Linked DNA regions of Homo sapiens. The protein of the gene in region 7 purifies or fractionates together with the protein of the main gene of each other region. This does not show direct contact. Each region holds a gene or a part of one and is shown on either strand. Other genes may lie near its edges. The genes, in order: LRRFIP1, PSMB7, NSRP1, SMC4, TNPO1, WASHC5 and RO60.

What was found.
Region 1: the proteins of RO60 (region 7) and LRRFIP1 fractionate together in Homo sapiens (co-fractionation; one large-scale study listed by BioGRID). This does not show direct contact.
Region 2: the proteins of RO60 (region 7) and PSMB7 fractionate together in Homo sapiens (co-fractionation; one large-scale study listed by BioGRID). This does not show direct contact.
Region 3: the proteins of RO60 (region 7) and NSRP1 fractionate together in Homo sapiens (co-fractionation; one large-scale study listed by BioGRID). This does not show direct contact.
Region 4: the proteins of RO60 (region 7) and SMC4 fractionate together in Homo sapiens (co-fractionation; one large-scale study listed by BioGRID). This does not show direct contact.
Region 5: the proteins of RO60 (region 7) and TNPO1 fractionate together in Homo sapiens (co-fractionation; one large-scale study listed by BioGRID). This does not show direct contact.
Region 6: the proteins of RO60 (region 7) and WASHC5 fractionate together in Homo sapiens (co-fractionation; one large-scale study listed by BioGRID). This does not show direct contact.

Annotation. Positions count from the first base shown.
Region 1 is NC_000002.12:237,760,087-237,763,586, reverse strand, and holds part of LRRFIP1 (leucine-rich repeat flightless-interacting protein 1), read right to left. Parts: coding exon 3,382-3,500; intron 985-3,381; coding exon of another isoform or gene 1-984.
Region 2 is NC_000009.12:124,408,943-124,412,442, reverse strand, and holds part of PSMB7 (proteasome subunit beta type-7 precursor), read left to right. Parts: coding exon 1-91; intron 92-3,500. UniProt on the Homo sapiens protein: Component of the 20S core proteasome complex involved in the proteolytic degradation of most intracellular proteins. This complex plays numerous essential roles within the cell by associating with different regulatory particles.
Region 3 is NC_000017.11:30,172,316-30,175,815, reverse strand, and holds part of NSRP1 (nuclear speckle splicing regulatory protein 1), read right to left. Parts: intron 3,275-3,500; coding exon 3,218-3,274; intron 1-3,217. UniProt on the Homo sapiens protein: RNA-binding protein that mediates pre-mRNA alternative splicing regulation.
Region 4 is NC_000003.12:160,413,150-160,416,649, reverse strand, and holds part of SMC4 (structural maintenance of chromosomes protein 4), read right to left. Parts: intron 3,178-3,500; coding exon 3,037-3,177; intron 2,284-3,036; coding exon 2,133-2,283; intron 400-2,132; coding exon 235-399; intron 1-234. UniProt on the Homo sapiens protein: Central component of the condensin complex, a complex required for conversion of interphase chromatin into mitotic-like condense chromosomes.
Region 5 is NC_000005.10:72,882,661-72,886,160, reverse strand, and holds part of TNPO1 (transportin-1), read right to left. Parts: intron 3,098-3,500; coding exon 2,929-3,097; intron 1-2,928. UniProt on the Homo sapiens protein: Functions in nuclear protein import as nuclear transport receptor. Serves as receptor for nuclear localization signals (NLS) in cargo substrates.
Region 6 is NC_000008.11:125,029,293-125,032,792, forward strand, and holds part of WASHC5 (WASH complex subunit 5), read right to left. Parts: intron 3,103-3,500; coding exon 2,949-3,102; intron 1-2,948. UniProt on the Homo sapiens protein: Acts as a component of the WASH core complex that functions as a nucleation-promoting factor (NPF) at the surface of endosomes, where it recruits and activates the Arp2/3 complex to induce actin polymerization, playing a key role in the fission of tubules that serve as transport intermediates during endosome sorting.
Region 7 is NC_000001.11:193,073,112-193,076,611, reverse strand, and holds part of RO60 (RNA-binding protein RO60), read right to left. Parts: intron 793-3,500; coding exon 572-792; intron 112-571; coding exon 1-111. UniProt on the Homo sapiens protein: RNA-binding protein that binds to misfolded non-coding RNAs, pre-5S rRNA, and several small cytoplasmic RNA molecules known as Y RNAs.

The DNA.
Region 1 (3,500 bases), on a different chromosome or scaffold from region 7:
CGTTTTGGGCTTCCACTGCTGACTTTCTGTCAGTAGACTTTACCTGCTCTTCTTCCTTAATTTCACTTAAATCTGTGTTCTGATACGTTAACTCTTTTTTAACATCTTTAAGGGTTTCTACGGGTACTGGGGATTTTTTCTTCTTGTTTTTCTTTTTCTTGTTCTTTGTCTTCTTCTGCGATGAGTCCAATGCCTCTCCCTGTTGGTCACTCTTTTCTTCATCGGGCTCTTTCATATCTAAGGGTTCATTTTGAGTGTCTACTGTACTTGGACCTGTCGCTTCCTGACAGTTGCCCTCAGTTCCTGCTGGAGAACCAGGAACTTCTGTCTTGATTGGTTTCTCGTCCCTTAATCCTGTTTCTTCACCCTCTTCTTCGTTGTGATCCCTACCTACTTCTGTACTGTGCGCTGGAACCTCCTTGGGCTCAGCTGCTTCCTGGTTGGTGAATTCTTTCTCTAAACTATGCCCTGTGCTTGTCTCTAACTCTTGGGGGACCTCTACCATACATTTGTCATCATGATAAACTGTGTCATCACTATGCCCTAAAGGACACGAGGCCACTGTGCCTGCCTGCTCTTCAACCTGAGTCACTGCTGCCTCTCCCACATTCTCTGTGTGGTTCCCACCATCTAAGTCACTCCAACAGTTGGATGGCTCAAGGGGAGTTCTGGTCCTGTCATCTGGTGCACCCATGACCTCATTTGACTCAACCTGTACTGTGTTTTCAGGGAGAGAACTGCTCTCAAGAATTTGGCTTTGAACCTGTTCCTCATAGGTAGCACCTGCTAAGGTTCCTAGGAATGGGGCAGTGTCTTCAGAGGATTTCTGGTCCTCGGTATTCTCACCAGCAGGGAATACCTCTATGTCCACACAGTCCTTCACTGTGTCCTCTGTGTGTTGTTCTTTCTCAGTATTGTGCAAGATTTCTCTTTTCCCCACATTCGCCACGATTTCATTTTTCACCTCCACTTCACTGGCTCTTCCTAAAAGACCATTGAGAAAATTGAAGGGACCCCATGATGTGGCGGCCACATAATCTACATTAGAATGTAAACACACGTTCCAAATCCCACCCACCCCTATTCCTAAAGACAGAGTCATCAAAGAGTCATGAGAAACAAGCCTTTGCCAGTTCTGTGCGGCAAAGCAGCAGTTGCATTAGTAAATTTTGGGTCAGTGAGGGCCACTGCCACCACATCAAAGGCCAGAGTGGCTGCTGGTGCCATCTTGTGTGGACAGATTTTTAAAGGTGACGTTAAGTTTCAACAAATAGAAAGAACTCTGGATCAGGCAGCCAAACAATCCACAATGATGGGTTTAGGAACAGACTGAAGGTTCAATTCCCCACTCTCACTTCTCAATGAACAACTTGACAACTTGTACTTTTGCAGCTGTCAAACTGCACTCCATGTCACACAGCCCTAAAAGCAGCTTTCAAGTAATTTTTAAAAAGAATATTCAGTGCACTTTTAGAAATGCAGCCTCAAGGTCAGTCTCAAGGAAGATGCTTTTGAAATAGCTCATATGAAAGGAAATCTATCTTCTGCCACTCAACTATTGTTTTCCTGAGAAAACACCCTGTGTCCATGCCCTGATACCTCTGCTCCATTCCCTAAGGGACTAGGGAGAGAGGACCAGCAGGAGGCAAATGTTCAAGATCAAGATGACCACTAAATTAAATGATAAATTATTCATCGTCTAAAGAACATCAAACTGTTTTGGAATTTTTGGACTCTCCAAACAAAACCCCAGCAGATTAGATATGGTACTATGTTACTGAAAGTCAAAGCTAGATAATTTTATAGCCCAGTGATCTCCATGGTGGGGTGCCCATATCCCAGGGAAAATGGGGGAAATATTAGGAATTCTATTTAGAGTTTTACTCTAAAACTTCTTTGCATATCTTTGCATATATTTTATAACGTACATTTTATATTAATGAAATAGTATACATATGTAGATTTAAAATAAACATACATATTGGATCCTACAATTCTTTGCTGAAGGAATATGTGATCAAAAGTCATTTGAAGGCCACTTTCAAAACTGACATTTCTGGTTCTTACAACATTTCACAATGGTTATCAAAGATTTATAAAATGTGTATTTGAGTAAGAGCAGCGTAATCAGATTCCTAGCTGTTCGGGTAGCTCATATAAAGGTATGATGGAAATTGATTAATTTATCTTTTCTCAACAACGGTATATAGATACTACATACCTATCTAGAGACGGAATCTTGCTAGGTTGCCAGGCTGGCCTGGAATTCCTGGTCTTAAGTGATCCTCCAGCCTTGGCCACCCGCAGCGCTGGGATTAGAAGTGTGAGCCACTGCACTAGGCCACAACTTTTTTTACACAATTGAAAAGAGCTGTGTTTCTTTAATAGTCATAAAGATAATGAATGAGGTACCTCCCTGGAATGCGAGGCCTGAGAAGATGGGGCCTGGAGGTGTCTACATTTCCATAAATAAAAAGAAATAAGATGAAAGCTTCTACATTAAAATGAAAAGTCACGGACCCTGACCTTATTCCAGCCTCTTTGTAAAACACTGGAACGCAGAGGGTGACCAGTGACAGATGAGGCCTCACTTGCACGCTGCAACTTCAGGCTGCACGCCAGAATCTGAAGGTTTCTCCCAAAGCCAACTCTTATGACAAATTATGACAAATCAGATCATTGAAAATGGTATAAAATATTCCTCTGATCTACTGGATTCCCCAGTTTTATATTCTTTCAGAAGCAAACACGTGGCATACAAAGGAGGATCCCCTCTGACAAAGGTGGGCATACTCAGACTCTCAGCACCGCCACACCCACTACCACGGCCGCCTGCCCACCTCGAGCGGTGGCTTGAAAAAGGCAACACAGACGGACCTGCTGTCCACAGGCACCCCGTACCCTCAAAGCGCTGAATGCTGCCCAGGATGTCGATGTTGGCTTGCAAATATGGCCAACTGACTTGACGGCCTCAACCATTCTGATCTTTTGATAATTCTGTCATAGAATCGGTTTAAAAAGCCACACTTTATAGGTACAGATATATATGTGTCTGAGGAAAACCAAATAGTACTCTCCACATTGTTACTTAATTTTGAGACTGTTTTCCTTTTGCCTTCACAGTCTTGCTTGGTAGCTTTGAGCAGCAAAAGAAAAGGTTCACTTGAGCCATTGATGGTGCACTACACAGAGATGCATGCCAGACAACACGTGGGTGACCACACCGGGTGGGCAAGGAAATTACCATGAAGTGATGAAACAAATGGCATGCTGGTGACTGTTAACCCATCAGCGACGGTGGCTCCAACCCCAGCAGTGCATGGAGGGTGAACCAATGCTGAGTGGAAAGGTGTGAGGAGCCGAAGGAAAGCAAATACTTACCTAGGGTCCCATCCCCTGTCGACTTGAGGGCATTTAACTCTTCTTTTGTCATCTTGGTAGGACCTTGGTATCCAACATTATTGAGGGTGTCGGAAGTCTCTCCATTGGTAGCTATTTCT
Region 2 (3,500 bases), on a different chromosome or scaffold from region 7:
TTTCTTCCAACCTGGAGCTCCACTCCCTCTCCACTGGCCGTCTTCCCAGAGTTGTGACAGCCAATCGGATGCTGAAGCAGATGCTTTTCAGGTAAGTTTCCAGAATGGGGATTCCTACTAGTATCTTCTTCTCATATCTTAGATTTTTTTCAGCCAAGAGAAGCCTGGAAAGTAGCAAAAACACATTCAGAAATACACATTTTGTTCCGGAAATCAGTTGTTATATTAAAGAGCCATTTTAAATGGTTTTTGATGGTGCATTTGAATTTCTGGGGCCTGATTTTTTTCATGAGTAAATCACATGTCACCAGTTGAGTCATTTCCTGGAGCATAGGGATATTACTGGATAAGAGAAACTTTTTTGTTCACGGTAAGAAAGTTATAGCTGGAGGAACTATCAAGTTGTCTTGTGAAACTACTCTCTCCTCCCCATAAACACAAACCCAAATGATTGTCTCTCCTTCCCCCCACCCCCTCCCTTTAGGGGCAAAATAACAGTGAATGAAAAGTGATATTTATAATTGGCTGTCAGTGGGTATGATAATATTAATATTAACCAACCTTTATCTACCTCTTACTCTGTTCCAGGACCTATGCTAAAGCGCTTTATGCACGATTTCATCCTTTTAACTCTGAGATAGGGACTATTAGCGTCTCCTATTTGTAAGTGAAGAAATTGAGGTTTAAAGAGGTGCAGTAGCTTGCCTGACCTGACCTTCATTCTCTGCTGACTCACAGCTCATATTAGTAGTTTTGTTTCTCTTTCTCCTTTAATAATTGCGTCATTACTTTATGTTTGTATGGGTCTTGGCAGTTTTCAAAGTGTGTTTTCTCATTTGCTTCTCATAAGAGAGGCAGTGATTTTAGGAGAAGTAGCCTGGGCATTTAGTCTTGGGTTGGAATACTGGCTTCTCCTTTTGGGACTTGCCTTACCTTTAACAAATTCTTTGCCTTTTTCCTTCTGTGTAGAATGGATATCATAATACCTGCCCCTAGTGGGGTGGTTGTGAGAATTAAAGGGGAGCACGGATAGACAGTAAAGATTTTAAACTGGTGGCTCATAGGCCATCAGCTTGTAGGGAAATTTGTTTGGGTCATATGGCCTTTTTTTCTTTTTAAATAGTGGCTAACAATTGTAAATGGGGAGATTTGAATTAAAAGTCTAGATTTTGGCTTGGCACGGTGGCACACGCCTGTAATCCCAGCACTTTGGGAGGCCAAGGTTGGCGGATCACCTGAGGTAAGGAGTTCGAGACCAGCCTGGCCAACATGGTGAAACATCTCTACTAAAAGTACAAAAATAGCCGGGCATGGTGGCGCTTGCCTGTAATCCCAGCTACTTGGGAGGCTGAGACAGGAGAATCGCTTGAACCTGGAAGGTGGAGGTTGCCGTGAGCCAAGATCACGCCACTGCACTCTAGCCTGGGTGACAGAAGAAGACTCCGTCTCAAAAAAAAAGAAAAAAAAAAAGTCTAGATTTCTGTCTTTTGAAAACATTGGAAACATGTGGCCGTAATCTTCGGGAACTCATTGGTGGTTGTTGCCTTAGAAGTGGGAGTGGGTGCTCTGTCACTTTCTCTGCCTGGCTCACTTCACTGTTCCCTTCAGGGCCCTGGCCTTCCTGATAATTTGCGGGTCCTCATCTATGTGTCTAGCATGGCCTGTGGGTTTTCAGTAGTGTATATGAGGTTGTAGCAAGGCCAGTAGTATAGTTCCCATTTTACAAATGAGACCAAAGCCTAGAGTCATATGGATAGGAAGCCTTGTCTATCCAATTGCTGCTTTATGTTTGTGTACGTATCATTATTCTAATCCAGGAGAATTATTGCCAACCAAATTCTCCCAGTACAGTGAGTAGAACTTGTTAAAGCACACCTATTGATCAGATTTCTGAAAAGATTTGTGGATTTTAATTTTAAATATAAAGCTCCCTCTGGTGGCTTGCTTGGTACATTATATATAAGGCTTTTTTGAAAACTTTTTTTCTACACGATGTGTCTATGTAATAAAGGCAATTTTTAAGCTTGTAAAATTGCTGCAAATAAGATGTTTCAAGATTCTTTGTAATGTCATTTAAAACAATTAGCAAAAAAATCTAGCAAATGTTTCTGTTAATCACTTCAGAATGTTTTAAGAATCCTAACATCTCGGCTGGGCGCGGTGGCTCATGCCTGTAATCTCAGCACTTTGGGGGGCCGAGGCAGGCAGATCACAAGGTCAGGAGATTGAGACCATCCTGGCTAACATGGTGAAACCCCATCTCTACTAAAATTACAAAAAATTAGCCGGGCGTGGTGGCGGGCGCCTGTAGTCCTAGCTACAGGAGAATGGCATGAACCCGGGAGGTGGAGCTTGGCAGTGAGCCGAGATTGTGCCACTGTACTCCAGCCTGGGTGAAAGTGCGAGACTCCGTCTCAAAAAAAAAAAAAAAATTCTAAATTCTCTTTTTTCAGTGTTTTGTCATTTTTTAGTTCAAGATACTTTGTAAAAGTTAAATTTTATCAAAATTTGAGGACCATTTAAAAATATAAACCAGCATAATTATAGTCTTTTATGTCCTCTTAACATTTTTGGTGAGTTACATAAAATGAGAGTGGTATAAGGAAAGAGTTTAGGATTTGATTTTAGAACTTTGGTTCATCTCCCACCTACAGCACTGACTGTCGTATAAATTTGGGTGATTCTTTCTCAATAAAATGAGGATAATAGTTTCTGTCTATCTGACTTTTGAGGAGGACAGGAATAAAGAAGCTAGGCTCTGACCTTGCATACTACAGAGCCTACTGCGTAGTTAGAGCCCCGTAAAATTCAGTCTGAAAAAGAGTACAAGGTGTTCTTGGTACTGCTGTACTTTTTTTTTCTGAACAGCCCATTTCCTTGTATGTGAGTCAGTGAGAAAATAAGGTTTGATAAGCAGAAGTGATGTCTTTTCCCTTACTTAAGCACTGCCTTTATCTCACACCTATCCTGGCTATATGTAGTTGATGTAAGTAATGCTTGTTCTGTGAGCATGGAACCTCCTTGTTGAGTTTCATAAAAATGTTAGTGAAATGCTGTTGTGTGTTCTAGAAACTATTACTTGAATACGTAGAGACTCTTATATTGTAACTTTTTTTCTTATAAACATAATGTACATTTATTGTAGGAAATTTAGAAAATACTGAAAAGCCCAAAGAACAAAATGAAAACTTTGCCATTCAGGGAGCATCACTCTTGGTTTGGTGTATGTTATTCCAGTCTTCTGTCTCTTAAGTTCTTCCCTTCCTCTCTTCCTTTTATATTGCTAGTACATGTTCATGGTAAAAACAAAACAAAGCTGGAAGATATGAACAAAAAGAATGTAAAAAACTACCTGGATTCCTGCCACCCACGAGCAGTTAGTGCTAAGAGATTGTTACACACCCTTCAAGGTTTTAAAAATAAGTTCAGTAATATTTAGAAAATGGGATTATAGTTGTACTGACTGTAGTATAGCCTAGTCTTCTCACCTAACAGTGCAT
Region 3 (3,500 bases), on a different chromosome or scaffold from region 7:
AATATTTATAAAAACTGACTATATACTGGACCATAAAGTAAACCTCTACAGGTTTTAAAGGAATGAAACAATACAGTGCAGTGTCTTGGAATCCAAAATAATCATGTTAGGGACTGGGTGTGGCAACTCATGCCTGTAATCCCAACACTTTGGGGGGCGAAGACGGGCGGATCTCCTGAGGTGAAGAGAGCGCCTGGCCATCTAAAAATATAAAAATTAGCCAGGTGTGGTGATGCACACCTGAAATCCCAGCTATCAGGAGGCTAAGGCAGAAAAATCGCTTGAATCCAGGAGGTGGAGGTTGCAGTGAGCTGAGATCGTGCCGCTGCACTCCAGCCTAGGTACAGAGCAAGACTCCATCTCAAAAACAAAAACAAAAACAAAACAAAACAAAACAAAACAAAAAACCCCAAAAAACAAACAAGCAAAAAACCAAAGTAATCACATTAGGAATGAATAACAAAAAGGTAATCAAAAACCTCCGTTATGTTCAGAAATTAATAATAGATGGGTCAAACAAGAAATCATAATGCAAATCAGAAAATGTTTTGCATGAAACAACAAAAATACTGCCTATCAAAATCTGTAAGATACAGCTACAGAAGTACTTAGAGGGAAACATATAGCCTTAAATGCATATATTAGAAAAGAGAACAGAAAACAGAGCTATGCAGCAATCTCAAAAAGTTAGAAAAATAACAAAATAAACCCAAAGAAAACAGAATGAAGAACACACTGATCTGTCAGGACAGAAAATGAAGTAGAAACAAACAAAATGTATATAGTATCATATTAGCTCATTGTATAAGGCTCGCCAAACCTTGGTATTATCAGACTTTTTCAATCTAGATAATTGCAGCGAAAGAAAAGGAAACCATCCTATTCTGCCCAGTCTCACTTATGATGCAAAAATCTTCAATACTTAAAAACTCTTAATGAAGCTTTAGTAAGCCAAATGCAACAATATATGAAAATGATAACATTTTATGCTTATGTTAAGTTTATACCACTTATGTGAAGTTACAATGATTGATTTTCTAAAGTTAAGCTGACTTTACATTATTGGTATAAAACCAACATGGTCATGAAGCAGTATCCTTTTTGTATGTAGTTCACCATTTAAACAAATAAACAAACAACAAAACCCTCCAACTAAGAAAATAATTTCCTTAGATTAGCAACAAATATCTATCAGAGACCTACAGCAAATGTTTTATTTACTGATGACATACTGAAAGTTTTCCCAATGAAACGGAATATGACAATAATGTTGCCATCATCAGTTCTGTAAACTTGAGGTCCACATAGAAGAAAAAAATAGTTTAAAGTACCCCATTTTAAAAAGCATTTTCTCTAAGATTTAGTAAATGCAATCAAGCTAGTATTCTTCATAGTAAAATGAAAAATAATTTCAATTCGTATGGATAAAGACATTCGATGAGCTGAATCAATCAAGTGGGGAACAAAGGGAAAAGTATGTAATATAGGTGCGAGAAAAAATCAGCAGAAAGCAGGTGAAAGGTGTAAGAGTTGTAGCAGCATTCCTAATTTCCAAGCAAACTACAAAAAGTCCCACTAAACAGATAAAGTGGCTTGAACAAGACAGAGTTAAGAATAAAATCAGATTTGGGATTCATGCTTTAAGTGAAGAAAAAAAGGCAGCACAAAAATGTTAAAATAATCCTGGAAAACAAGATACCTGTATTACCTTGGATAAGTTACCCAACTCTCCAGAACTAAGTCTCCCATTTATATAGTGAGGAAGTTGAACTTAATGGTATCTCCAAAATTCTGACTCAAAGCACTCCAGTATTTATGTTAAATAATCACTGTTTTTTATGTTTTATGTGTATATTAAATCATTCTGAGGCTGCTGAGTTACACATTATATTTCACTGTGAAACTCTGACATTATCTTAAAATGACTAAATATATCCTTCTGTGCCAATTCGTCCGGGAGGGTGTGAAACACAGTGGTTAAAAGCCTAGGTTCTGAGGTTTCACTGTCTAGTTTTGAACACAGCCCTACCATTTATTAACTATGTGGTCTCATGCAAGTCACATAAATTCTTCTTGCCTTCATTTCCTTAACTATAAAATAAGGATTATAAAAGCATCTATCTCATAGAATTATTGTAAGAATTAAAGATCATTCTTAAAACATAGTTGTCATGATGCCTGGCACATAGAAAGTGCTTAATAAACTTATCTTTATGCAGGTTTCCAGTTAGACAAAGAGGAAATAGGACCAAAAATTATAAAGCTAATGGAGAGGATAAATAATTCAAAATGAAAAACAAAGGCACCTCGCTATTGTTTAATTTCATTACATTCTATAGCAGAAAATCTAAGATATACTAGTCTACAATAGCAGAAAAATTAGTAAACCTTCAGGCCTAGTTCGATAATTAATAGTATGATCTTAAGGAGCACTTTATCCTTTTTGAGTTTCAGATTTCTTAATCAGTACTATGGGCAAGTTTGTGAGAACTGTAAAAGATAAATGTATGTAAAAAGCACTTGGAAACAAGCACGTCTTTTAAAAATTATCAGGCCGCGCACGGTGGCTCACGCCTGTAATCCCAGCACTTCAGGAGGCTGAGGTTGGCGGATCACCTGAGGTCACGGGTTCCAGACCAGCCTGACCAACACGGTGAAACCCCGTCTCTACTAAAAATATAAAAATTAGCTGGGCATGGTGGCATGCGCCTTTAGTCCCAGCTACTCGGGAGGCTGAAGCAGGAGAATTGCCTGAACCCAGGAGATGGAGACTGCAGTGAGCCGAGAGTGCACCACGGCACTCCAGCCTGGGCAACAGAGCAAGACTCAATCTCAAAAAAAAAAAAAATCTATATATCTATATATCTATATATTTGTATCTATCTCTGATATTCTTCTTTCTGGGCAGATGAGTTTCAAATAATTATAAGTTTGTGAAACCATTTTGGTTGTGAAAAGGTTTTTTTTTTCCCTGCAAGTAAGCTCACTAGCAAGAATTTAATAATAACAACAGGCCAAACAATCCATTATTAGACTAATGAGTCATCTACAAGCAGAACTGGTTTAATCTATAGCACAGCAATAAGGAGCTAATTCTTCATTGTGTTTTTCCTTAAATCTATTCTGTTTTAGTCTCAGCACCTAGATACCAAAACTGATGCTTAAAAATGAGCCGGAATGCTTCACTGAATGCACTTATCCCAGTCTTCTACCTTACCTGTTTCATGGCCTGCTTCTTAGCAGCTTCCCTCTGAAGGCTTTCACTCACAGAGGTCTGTAAAACAGAAATATATTGTCACTTTTTAAACAAATTTAAAATTTCTTTTCCAGTACGAGCGTCCCCTATCTAAAATACATGGGACCAGAAGTGTTTTGTATTTCAGATTTTTAAAATACTTACTGGTTCAGCACCCCAAATCTGAAGATCTGATATCTGATGCTCCAATGAGCATTTCATTTGAGCTTCACATTAGTGCTCAAAAAAGTTTTAGATTTTAGAA
Region 4 (3,500 bases), on a different chromosome or scaffold from region 7:
TGACATCACACCTTCTGCTACTACTACAAACTCTCATTTAGTAAACTTTTTAAAAAACATGTCAGCAGGAATTAAAAGAATAGTCATCTAAGTCTAGGTTGACTAGTTTTAGGAATGTTGGACATTAAAAGTCCAAACTTACCAGTTCAGGTTTCAGTATTTTTGAAAAAATAATCTTTAAGTTAAAAAAAAAAAAGCCACCAAAATAAACACTGATAAAAAAAAAAAACTTACTTCTTTTTCTTTCTGAAGCCCTTGTGTTTCCTGTTTAAGGCTATCCATAACTTCCTTTAATTTTTTTTCTTCTTTCTCTTTTTCCTTCTCGAGGGCATTGTTTCTGGTTGTTGTTTCATTAATGATATTGTTACTCTTGGCAGGTATACTTTTAAATTCTTCAACCTGAGATTATAAAACAAGTTATAGGAGCATACATCTTTATGTTACCCAATACTATCAATATTTGACATATTTAAAGGCATTTCTCAGGGTCCTCTAGTTCTTCTTTTCTTTATAATCAGAGTTAAATTAGCTAGCTTTAACAAGTATTTTCCCGACTATTCACTGTAATTTCTATATTCTCTCAATCTAATAGTAAAACTACTTCTACAAACACCTGACCTCTTATGAAGGAAAACTGTCTCTGGCAGGGCCTCAGGTCTGTCATCCTTCTCTCCTGATTTCAGGTTGTAATTATTCTTCTTTAGCTATAAATATGCTCTGACTACACGGAATTTTCTAAACTATCCTTCCTGGTATATCATAACTTACCACAAATTATCTTTACCATCTCCCCAACCCTAAAATCTTTCACAACTTTACTCTTCCAGAGTCATCATGTAGGGCTAATATTTTACTCCATTAACATCTTCTGATAATAATCACTTATCCATGCAGTCTATGCCTAAAGGCTAATCACTCTGTAACAGTTACACTTAGCTAAGTCTGTCAAGTCTTTGGGGTTACCCCCAAAGCCTTGTTATTTTGTTTACTCTGATTATCTAGTACCTGTGAAGTTCAACATTTCCCAAAATGCCACTTCCTTAAACACTGACTCAACGTATTTATCAGCTGTGCTAAGCAGAAAGTATTTTGTGAACAAATACATTTAGAAAATGCTTATAGCGTAAAGTAGAGCCTAATCTATAATTATTGTGTAACCATATGGAACAAAGCTTTTTTTTTGCGGGGCTGGGGTTAAGGTATCATATCTGTTTAAATATGACAGAGCTATGAACATGAACACAGCTTAAGAGATTCCAAATTATGAGCTTTCCTATCTCTCTTTAAGACACAGAGTCTCACTTTGTCACCCAGGCTGGATGCAGTGGCTTGATCACTATTCACTGGAATCTTGAACTCAAGGCATCCTGCCGCCTCACTCTCCTGACTAGCTAGGACTTTTAGGCAAGTTCCACTGAGCCTGGCTAATTTTGGATTTTCTGTAGAGATGGGATCTTACTATGTTGCCCAGGCTGGTCTTAAACTCCTGGCATCAAGCAATTCTCCAACTTTGGCCGCCCAAAGCACTGGGAATACAGGTGTAAGCCATTGTGCCTGGCCAACATTGGTAATTCTTGGGAAATCCTGCTCTGATCCTGTTAGCTTAGTTTTTGTAGAAGACAGGCAATATTTTTAAGTCTGTAATACCTAACTTAAATATCTTTAAAAACTACTACTTTAGGAAAAAGAAAATTAAAATTAACACCAAAATGGAACTCCTGATTTGGTAAATGTTTTCCCAATAACATATTATTGTAATATAAACTTTAAAACTCAAAGTCAAGCTAGGAGCAATGGCTCACACCTGTAGTCCACGTTACTTTGGGAGGCTGAGGTAGGTTTCTTAAGCCCAGGAGTTCAAGACTATAATCATACCACTGCACGCTAGCCTGGACAACAGACTGAGACCCCATCTCTGCAAAATTCCAAAACCAAACAAAAAACCTCCTGCAAAATAAAGTCAGTAGAAGCAAGGTTTCCCTTGAGGGGGTAAAATCATGTTCAGAGACAAACCTTAAAACAACATTTAGAATACTAATTCATTCTCTTAGGCAATAAGGGGCAAACACATCCATGAAAACTAGGTATGATATTCAGACGTGAAATTTTAAGAATTTTTTTCTAACACCTACCTTTTCTTTATCTTTTTGAAGTTGTTTCTCCAGTTTTTTGGCTTTACTCGTGGCATGTTTTAACTTTTCTCTAACTTGAACATCTTCCAAATCTAGCTGTGTAAATTTTTCTTTATTCTCCTCAATAAATTTTGTAATTTTATTCAGTTTCCTAGCAAAGCAAGTATATTGTAAGTCATTATTTTGAATGTGCACATATTTTAAAACCACATTTCCTACCTGGAACACTTCCTCTATAAATATGTCCAGGCTCTTAATAAGGCAGGATCCTAAAACTCTCCTTATTCCAAGATGATCCCTCTCCCCATAGTTGAAGAAGCACCTGTATTTTTGATTATGACAGCTATTTTGCCTTTCTAAGTTGGAGGGAAAATAACACATTTTCCAGTGACTACAATGTCTAGGTATATAAAAATTTTACCATAGGAGTAAAATTTTGGTTTTACCTTTTACGAATATACTTACAAGTTACTATACAATAAACTTACTATACAAATTTTTTTATTTAAAAATAATTAGAGATACTAGTGTCATTGAAAAATGGCATCAAGTAGGGACATGATAAAACCCTTAAAAATCTATCTAGAAAAACCCAAATCCTATCCCTCTATCAGATTTGTGGACTACTAAAAGATTAAACTGTGAAGCCAAATGCTTATTGTTTGTTACTGTGCTACGCCACTAGGGGGTAGCATCCCCACGGTTCTAAGACTTCAGAGTAGGGAATTTCATCTGTAACAAGGAACTGGATGCAAGGCAAGTTTTTTTTTTTCACTAAGGGGGCCACCACTTGATATGCTGGCAAATGTCTTACACTCACAATGTGCTAGAAGTAACTTTATATATAAATACACATGTAATACAATTATCTAAATACTTTTAGTACTTCCCAAAATATTATTACTTTTCTGTATCTTTTACATCTTTATTCTTAGCTTTCATTTCATTTGATAGTATATTGCTCTTCTCATTAATTTCTTTGGTATCTTCATGAATTTTTTCCTTTTGAGTTTCCATTTCAGCAATTCGTTTCTGCAACTCATAACTATAGGGAGGAAAAAAAAAAAAAGAAATTGAAGCTCCTAAAATGCCATTTCCAAAACTGTATAACAATTTTAGTAAAACTAACTGTTTCTAAAATATTATTAACTAGTCAATATATGACTGCCTAGGCTATGAGGGGAAAATCCCCCTGGGTCAAGGCTAGAATTTAGGAACAAAAATCGATTTCATTGTACCAATGTGGTGGCCGACGCCTGTAATCCCAGCACTTTAGGAGGCTGAGGCAGGCAGACTGCCTGAACTCAGAAGTTTGAGACCAGCTTGGGCAACATGGCGAAACCCCATCTCTACCAAAAAAAGAAAAAA
Region 5 (3,500 bases), on a different chromosome or scaffold from region 7:
AAAATATCATTTAACTGTTATGGGTAGGAACGTGTTCCTGAAGTTCATGTATTAGAAACCTAATCCCTAAAGCAACGAAGATGGGAGGTGGGGCCTATCAAGAGATGATTAGGTCTTAAGGGTTCTGCCCTCATAAATGGGTTAATGTCGTTACTGTAGGAGTGGGTTAGTTATCAAGAGAGTTGGCTTATTATAAGCGTGAATTGAGCTCTTAAGTGTGTCCTTCTGTCATCAGATGATGTTGCAAGGAGGTTCTCACCAGATGCAGCCCCTCCATTCTGAACTTCAGGTATCCTGTTATAGTAGTACAAAATGGACTAAGAAAATATCAGAAATTTCCAACGTGAACTAGGCATAGTAAATGGCTAATCACAAACTACTAGACAATAATAAAATCCTCAAAAAAAAAAAAAAAAACCAAACCAAACCAAAACAAAACCATTACATTGGCCAGAAATTAACACCTTACCCATCAATAAGGATCTTAGTTATACCACATGGTAGAGCCATACAACTAAACAGTACACTGACATGCAACAAAAGGAAATCTAAATCTGTATGTACTGAGGAAGAATGAGGCATACGATACACAGAAAGAAAGCAGCAGAGTACATATAATCTGATTTCACTTTTAGAAAACTGGCTTCTCCTCTAAAAAAGATGCCTGTATGTTTTCCCAAGCACGCACAGAAAAGCTTTTGGAAGGATACAAAGAATGGGATGTGAAGAGGAAGTGTTCCCCCATCCATGTATGTATATTATTTTGTAGAGTTTTCTGTGTAATGATCTTGAGCCATCCTGCTCCCCTAATCTGAAAGTAGGGATACACTGGGAAGTAATTTGTAATAGTAGTAAACACCATGTGTTGTCTTAACAAGTGAGACTTGGGTCCCAGTACTAGATGTGCTATCAGTACTAGCTATGCTAACCTTGGGTATATCTCTCTTTCTGCAGTTTTCTTGCCTATTCAAGGTTGTTGGAAATGTTAAATATGACTTTATTCTTACTTATGATTAAACAGACTTTGATATGCATGCAAAGTCCTTGGCCTAGTGCCTGGCACATTAGGCACTCTAAATAGAATGTTAGTTACAGGAAACTGAAGAGGCAACAGAGAAATTAGCATTATCTAACCAAATGAAGAACACAGCCCAGACTGATAATGTCTGTTCTTAACTGCTTTAATCATAGTTATTAGAAATCCCAACACTTTGAACTAGAGTAGTGGCTCTAAACTGGGGTTGATTTTGTTCCCCCAGGAGATAACGGTTGTCACAACTGTGTTTGTGCTGCTGGCATCTTTGGGTAGAGGCCAGGGATGCTGCTTAACATCCCACAACGTGCAGGACAGCCTCCGCAACAAAGAATTACATGCATGATGTGGCATTCACATGTAGAAAAAAAAAAAGAATTATGTGGCCCAAAATGCCAATAGTGCCAAGGCTGAGAAACCCTGAACTAGAGCAGTAGAGGTTTAAAATCCAGCAAACAAGCAAGCAAAATCAGAACACAGGTGTTTAGGTTCATCCCCAATTAGGAAGCGTGGGCCAGAATGCTAGCTCCACAGGTGATATGATTTGCAGCTAAGGTTGGAAATTAACATATTTTAAGAAGCATATTTCATAAATTTTGACTATAACAAAGCAACTTATAATAAATTTGAATATAATAAAGCAACTTATATTATTTTAGAATTACCTATGATAGCCAATTTTCATGCAAATTACCAGACAGAAAACACTCATGTTAGAAAAACCAAAAAAGCTTGTGGCAATGTTCTTACAGTATTAAAACAAACAGCCTTTTGAGAAATGGTAGTTTAAGAATATAATAATGATAAAATAAGAGCAGGTCCACCAGGAAAATGCAAACCAAAACCACAAAATACCACTTCACGTCCACTAGAATGACTATAATAATAAAGAGATAATAAAGCAAGTGAGCATGTGAAGAAACTGGAACCCTCCAGACAATGCTGCTAGGAAAGCAGAATGGTGCAGTCACTTTGGAAAACATCCTGGTTATTTCTCAAAAGGTTAAACATACAGTTACCATATGACCCCAACAATCCTTCTCCTGAGTGTTTACCCAAGAGAACTGAATACACATTGGGCCAGACACAGTGGCTTACGCCTGTAATCCTAGCACTTTGGGAGGGCAAGGCGGGTGGATCGCTTGAGCCCAACAGTTCAAGACCAGCCTGGGCAACATGGCAAAACTGTCTCTACCAAAAAAAAAAAAACAAAAATTCATCCAGGTGTATTGGTGAGCACCTGTAGTCCCAGCTACTTGGGGAGCTGAGGTGGGAGGATCACCAGAGCCCAGGGAGGTCAAGGCTGCGGTGGGCCATGACTGCGCCACTGCATAATCATGCTAGCCTGGGTGACAGAGACCCTGCCTCAAAACAAAAAAACAAACAAACAAACAAAAAAAGTCTACACACAAAAATTATACATGAGTATTTATAGCATCACAACTCAACAGCTACAAAAAGAGAAACACAAATGTCCACCAACCAATGAATGGAGAATATGTGGCATATTACAATGAAATATTATTTCACAATACAAGTGAATGCTACAAAATGAACCGTGAAAACTTTATGCTAAGTTAAAGAAGATGGTCACAAAGGACAATGCATTGTATGACTCCATTTACATGAAATGTCTAGAATAGGCAAACCCAGAGACAGAATATTGACTAGTAGTTGCCCAGAGCCAGTGAACAATAGGGAGTTACTGCTAAAGGGTATGGGTGATGAAAACATAGTCTACAACTGATTGTGGTAATGGTTGAACAGCTCTCTGAATATACTAAAAACCAATGAAATGTATACTTTAATGGGTAGTAAACTGTACAGTAGATGAATTATACCCCAATAAAGTTATCATCAAAGTAGGCAACTGTGCTTTTCCCTTTCTGACTTACTTAGATTCCAGTCAGAAATTGTATCATCATCATCAATTTCATCATCATCATCATCTTCCTCTTCAATTCCATCTTCATCATGCTGCTGAGCCACCGTCCTCGATCGGTGAAAACGTGGCCGTATATCCTGTTCACTATCAGGAATCGTTTCGTCTTCTTCAACATCACCCTGTTGTTTTTTTAAGAGAAATTTTTGGTGGCATTCATTATAGGCTAATAGTATGTACATGAGTAAGAGAAACAGAATATCCAGAGATGGGGTCATGCACAGAATTCTGAAATATACTTCCAGAGTGATTAAGAACCACGCCCATGTACAGAACATATTCCTTATGGAGGGGCGAATAGACTGACCTAACACACCTGTTAGGTTATACGGCCCTTTCAGCCAACTACATGGCCTCCACTGGCTGGTATAATCTAAGTTACCTGAATCAAATTCAGAGCAGCATATATAAGAATGTTTTTAAAATAACTCCAAGTAATTAAGGGGAAATTAATAATAACCCTACCAATGTCACCATCTAGTACCAAATTAAGCAAGAATTTATCATTACTTAAACTTATGCTTC
Region 6 (3,500 bases), on a different chromosome or scaffold from region 7:
AAAGTGTTGGGATTACAGGCGTGAGCCACCGCACCTGGCCTGCACACTGATTTGAAAGTAAACTTCTAGACATTGTTCGAGTCTCAGCTTGGGTACTTCTCCTGTGGAATCCTCCCTGATTCTCCTGGGCTGTCATAATAGTTAGCAGCATTCTCCAAGCCTCTTAATTTTTCAATGGTGTGCTGGGTTCCCATCAGGAGTATAAACTCCTCGAGGGCCTAGGTCATATGTTCATCTTTGTTTCTCCAGCATCTGGAAATGTGCTTGGCATGTACTGCATATTTGACGGTATCAAATAAATACAGCATCTAGCAATTTTTCATATGGGATTTTACTCATGTATTCATTCATTCAGCAACTACAGTGCCAAGCACTGTTCCAGAGCTGGGAATACAGCAAAGTACATGCCAGGCTCCTTATAGAGCTAACGTTCCTTCTTGTTTACATCAAAAGGAGTTTTTAGGTGTTAAAACGATTTCCAATTCCTGTACCAATTGGCATTTTCTGATTAACAAATAACTTTTAGTACTATTAATACATTACTGGTTAATTTCGCTGATGAACTTTGCTTTTTGAATGGGTTAAGAATGACTGTACCTGGAAAAATTCTCCCTGCTCTCAATCTTTCAATCTGTGACCAGGGCTATATTTGCTCTGCTTGGAGCAAGAGAAAGGAAGGAATTCCCATGCGTCACAGGTTCCTTAGATTCCTTTGCTCTGCTGAATCAGAAAGCCTGACTTACAGCTGGTCTCCTGTAGCCTGATCACCACCCTCAGGGTTGCCAATAACATGCTGGACTAGAGCCACACTTAAGCCTTTACTGCCATTAGTGAAAAAGAAAGAGAGGAAGAAGAACCTGTCCAAGTTGACAGCTAGGGAGCTACAATTGGGACAGCCAGTTGTGTGGAGGTTACTTGCTAATCACCTCCGCACCACCTGAACTGGAGTCCTTCCCCTCCTCTCTGGGAGCCTGGGCCAGAGGCGCTGGGTTTTTATGAGCCTACTGCTTTCCTTGCCAACTGACCTCACTTCGTGATTGTTACAATTTCATTTTTGAGACTTTGAGTTCTCCTCTATTTTTCAATTGTTAAAAAATCTTGTTTCTGAAGCAAGTCTTAACATCTATCCCAGGAAAACACCAGTGTTTGTTGTTCGATTCATTAACTAAGAGGAGGAGGAGCTGGCCTGACTGCAGCTCACGGGAAATAACGACATTGGGGTTTAGAAAGAATGCAAAATCAGTAGGAGCCACTGGTATGCACTGGATGTCAAGAAACCCATCACTGCAAAGCCGAGATCACGCCACTGCACTCCAACCTGGGCGACAGAGCGACTCTTTCTCATAAAAAAAAAAAAAAAAAAAAAAAAAAGGACTCATCACTGCAATTGTAGCTGCTGTACTGTCCACAGAGGGCCCAGAATGAAGACGTGTAATACTCCTCTGTGCCAAGGGGAGGGCTGTGCTTGGAATCTCAATACAAGTTTGGGAAGCCACATTTTAAGATGGTCAAAAACAGACTGGAACACCCAGAAAAAGTCACTCACTATGGTGAGCAGCCTCTAAACTGCAAGACATCGGGAACAGGTGGAAGGGGCTTATCTAAACATTGAGAAGACCTAAGACAACAGATGGCATACAAAATCGGAAGTGATGTTGCAAAGGAGGGAGACTGCATTATTCTGTATGATTTCAAAAGGTAGGAAAAAGCTCAGCGAGTGAAACATCCAGAGACACAGGTTCTAATAATCACAATCAGGAACTTTCTAATGAGAACAAGACTTAGCCAGTGGACTGTGCTGCCTGGAGAGGTAGCACAAGCCCCCTCGGTGAGAGTGTTCCAGCAGTGGCTGCATGACTACCTGTCAAGGATGTCCTAGAGCTCATTCATGCACTTAGTGGGAGGTCAATTAAATGACCTCGAAAATCATTTCCAGTTTTAGGACTTAGTAGTATTTTGTGTGGACTTAGAAGATCACTTTGGTTCGTTTTATTTTTTTTGAGATGGAGTCTCGCTCTGTCACCCAGGCTGGAGTGCAGTGGCATGATCTCAGCTCACTGCACCTCTGAGGCCTCCTGGGTTCAAGCAATCCTCCTGCCTCAGCCTCCTGAGTAGCTGGGATTACAGGTGGCCACCACTACATGTGGTTAATTTTTGTGTTTTTTTAGTAGAGATGGGGTTTCACCATGTTGGCCAGGCTGGTCCTGAACTCCTGACCTCAAGTAATCTACCCAAAGTGTTGGGATTACAGGCTTGAGCCACTGTGCCCAGCCGCTTTGATTCGTTTTTTACATTATAGTGGCAAAAATGACCAAGCAAACATGACAGCAAAGGTTATGTAGCCAGGCTGACCCTTTAGGATAGCAGAGAAGGAGGCACAGGACCCAGCATCTCATGGAAATAACTTTTTTTTCTTTATCCCAGAAAAGCCACATTTAGGGGCAGGGGAAAAGAACTGGCAGGAATTAAAGTTTTATAAGCATTGTATCAAATAGCAACTCTTGTGAAATTTGCTTCTCTACATGCAGACACTGCCCAGGCTTTGACACACTGATATGTTCTCTGACTCCCACTGAAGTGAGTGGAATCATCTCTTGGCAGTGGCCCAGCAGGAGTGCAGGGGCTCGCTGAGATTGAAGAGCTGCATCCAAGAGTGCAGAGGAACAGGGCTGCACTTTCTTCCCCATGGTAGTTACTATTCATGGTCCTGAGTCACTCCTGGAAAATCAATGTGAGTAGACCGGATGGAGTTCCCCTGGCAGGGTGACTAAGGATGGACACACCTGTAATTGCTCTAAACAAGGAGGTATGCCCTGACTTGCTTTACAGAGAAGGGTGAGCAACCATTTCCCATCTCTATTAGGGCGATAAGAGGAATTTGGTAATGTGAGGTTTAAGTTAGGTTTTGTGACAAGAAGTCCCACGTAGTCCTGGTTGGTCTTCTGTACCTTGTACACTGCTCCACCGTGGAGCAGATAAACTGGCCAATCAGCGCCAGGAACTGCTCGGTGTACCGGGAATGGAACTGCTTCAGCAGAGTGAGCAGTCCCAGGACAAGTGGTGGCCAATCAACCGGGTCGGTCGGTTTTCGGCAGACCATTCCTGCAAGGGAACAAGTTGCAACACCATATGAAGTACTTGCCTTCAGCAACATTCATTAAATACCAACGCTGTGAAGGTCAAAATGTTTGGGGCCCATATTCTCGCTGGCAGATGATATTTTGGAGGGAATGACAATTCTGGGCCATATTTTGAATTAGCCACAGGATTGGTAGGGCATTCCAGGGGTCTGAAGGATTCAAAACCAATAAAACGGTTACTAAATTTTGTAATTATCATTACTGGTTCTTTTGAATTACTCAATTAACATATATTATTGTAGCAATTTTTAAAGATACAGATAAATGTAAATGAGAAAAAAAATCACTACAACTGACTTCTGTTAACGGCAGCATGACATACTAGATACCCTGAACTACTATCTTAAGTGAAAAGCTGGA
Region 7 (3,500 bases):
TACTAAAGATACTTCTGAATTTCCTGGTTCAAGTACTGAATTAGCAGTCATCTTTCCTAGATTCCTTAGTAATGCAGTAAGCGGCATTTCTTGTAACAAAGCCTTCCATACCTATTGCAATAACATAGGCAGAAATACCAGGAATTAAGGGAAAATAAATCAGTATAACATACCTATATAAAAAAATATTCATAATACAGTCTCTGAGGCTTTCATTTGGGGTTCAAAGTACTTTCAGAATGAAAAATGTCTAAGTAAAAGGCTTATCAAATAAGCTAACTTGTTTTTTACTAGAAAAAGGATGTGAAGTATATTTTATGAAGGAAATGCATAGATGATTTTTTTTTTAATTAGCAAGGCAGTAGATTTTCTGGAGTGAAACTAACACAAATGCCACCTACATCATGTTGGACATCATGGTAGGTGTTTTAAACAGACATCAATTTCAAGATATATTTTAAATAATTTCTTTTTAAAAGTATAAATATATAGCTACCCCAAGTTTATCCTTTTAGCACCTACACTAAATTACTCATGTTTAATCACATGCTGTAACATATAATTCACTCACCTCTTTAGACTTTAAGTGATTTGTTAAAAGATGTTCTCTAACTAATCTATGTTCTTCTATTAGATGAATGACTTCTAGCTCATCTCTTGTGCGCTTCACTTTCTCTACAGCCTCCAGATACTTTAATAATTTTTCAGTCTCCACAGAGAGTGCTTTTTCTTTATACAATTCATGAACTTCTTTCCAGCCCTTTGTAATATATTTGGTCACAATTGCAAGTCCTTTAACAAGATAAAGAATTGAAAAAGCATGCAGGATTACCAAGTAAAAAAACAGAACATGTTTCCTCAAAATGCATTATATGATCAACATAACTGGATACACAAGAGTTAATGCCCTTACACTGGGATGCTGCTTTCCATGATATAACAATTAAGCAAATGGGGTGAATTAATTTTCTTATTCCATCATTACTATTTAAATATGAGACTTTAGAGTAAAAAAACCTGTATCCTGAGTATTTTGTTACAGAGGCTTTTCTTTCTTTTCTTTTTAAAGACACCAGCATTAGAAAGTTTCAGGTCCATAATCTCAGAACAACTCACGAGAGTACAGATCTATCTCAATTAATATTGTATTGTATTGTAATGTATTATATTATATTAATTATATTCACTTGTCTCTTTTTGCTGTTGAATAAAATATATATATTTACAAAAACAGCAGAAATAAGTAGAAGTGGACAGGGTAGCTTCTTTTACACTATGTTTTAATAGCTGAGAAGTATTACTGCTCAAAAAAAAAAAAAAAAGGAAACAGTAACTTGTTGATTTCCTCCACAATTTCTTCCAATAGAAGAAAGAGAAAAGAGCCTTGGATTGGGGGTGAGAAAGTCTGGGTTCTAGCCTATACTCTGCCAATAAATGGTGGTCTTTCTAGGTCTTAGTTTCACCACTTCTGTAAAACAGCAGGGATTGGATTACAACATTAAAATGTCTATGAGGGACAAGCAAATAAAATAAATAAAACCACCACGGTGAGGCCAGGCACCATGGCTCATGCCTGTAATGCTAGCACTTTGGGAGGCCAAGGAGTGTGGATCACCTGAGGTCAGGGGTTTGAGAACAGTGTGCCCAACGTGGCAAAACTCCATCTCGAAAGCTGAAACTGGATCCCTTCCTTACACCTTATACAAAAATTAATTCAAGATGGATTAAAGACTTACATGTTACACCTAAAACCATAAAAGCCCTAGAAGAAAACCTAGGCAATACCATTCAGGACATAGGCGTGGGCAAGGACTTCATGTCTAAAACACCAAAAGCAATGGCAACAAAAGCCAAAATTCACAAATGGTATCTAATTCAACTAAAGAGCTTCTGCACAGCAAAAGAAACTACCATCAGAGTGAACAGGCAACCTACAGAATGGGAGAAAATTTTTGCAATCTACTCATCTGACAAGGGGCTAATATCCAGAATCTACAAAGAACTCAAACAAATTTACAAGAAAAAAACAACCCCATCAAAAAGTGGGCGAAGGATATGAACAGACACTTCTCAAAAGAAGACATTTATGCAGCCAAAAGACATATGAAAACATGCTCATCATCACTGGCCATCAGAGAAATGCAATTCAAAACCACAATGAGATACCATCTCACATCAGTTAGAATGACGATCATTAAAAAGTCAGGAAACAACAGGTGCTGGAGAGGATGTGGAGAAACAGGAACACTTTTACACTGTTGGTGGGACTGTAAACTAGTTCAACCATTGTGGAAGTCAGTGTGGCGATTCCTCAGGGATCTAGAACTAGAAATACCATTTGACCAAGCAATCCCATTACGGGGTATATACCCAAAGGATTATAAATCATGCTGCTATAAAGACACATGCACACGTATGTTTATTGCGGCACTATTCACAATAGCAAAGACTTGGAACCAGCCCAAATGTCCAGCAATGATAGACTGGATTAAGAAAATGTGGCACATATACACCATGGAATACTATGCAGCCATAAAAAGGATGAGTTCATGTCCTTTGTAGGGACATGGATGAAGCTGGAAACCATCATTCTCAGCAAACTATCGCAAGGACAAAAAACGAAACACTGCATGTTCTCACTCATAGGTGGGAATTGAACAATGAGAACACATGGACACAGGAAGGGGAACATCACACACCAGGGCCTGTTGTGGGGTGGGGGGAGGGGGGAGGGATAGCATTAGGAGATATACGTAACGTTAAATGACGAGTTAATGGGTGCAGCACACCAACATGGCACATGTATACATATGTAACAAACCTGCACGTTGTGCACATGTACCCTAGAACTTAAAGTATAATAAAAAAAAATTAGCTGGGCGTGGTGGCACATGCCTGTAATACCAGCTACTCAGGAGGCTGAGGCAGGAGAATCACTTGAACTGAGGAGGCAGAGGTTACAGTGGGCCAAGATCGTGCCACTGTGCTCCAGCCTGGCCAACAGAGTGAGACTCTGTCTCAAACAAACAAACAAACAAACAAACACAGTGATGTAATAGAGAGTTGTTAGGGTGTGGTGACTGAACAGAGTGTGCCCTGACAAGTGGTGTAGACACGTATTGACTTAGTGCTGCCAAAAGAAAAAAAACTTACTTTCAAGAGAAGCCAGAATATGGGTTTTTATGTCGATTTTTAAAGATAATGACAAAGAATTCATTTTTACCCAAAAATATTGTATAGGCCACATGAAACACATCTCTATGCCAACTGAGCCTATTATGTTATTTTTGAATGCTAAATAACTTGATCAAAAGTTAACACTAACATGCAGGAACTTCTCAAGTATTGTGACTCTTGCTATCTTCCAGATTTTGGTGCAAAATCATCTTAAATGAGTAAATGTTTCCTGTGAGTATATCTTCTATTTTGTTTTTCCAGTGAAAATAAAAATTCCTTAAAGCAGTTTTATCCTACCCGGTTCTGTAATTGCGCTGGCCATG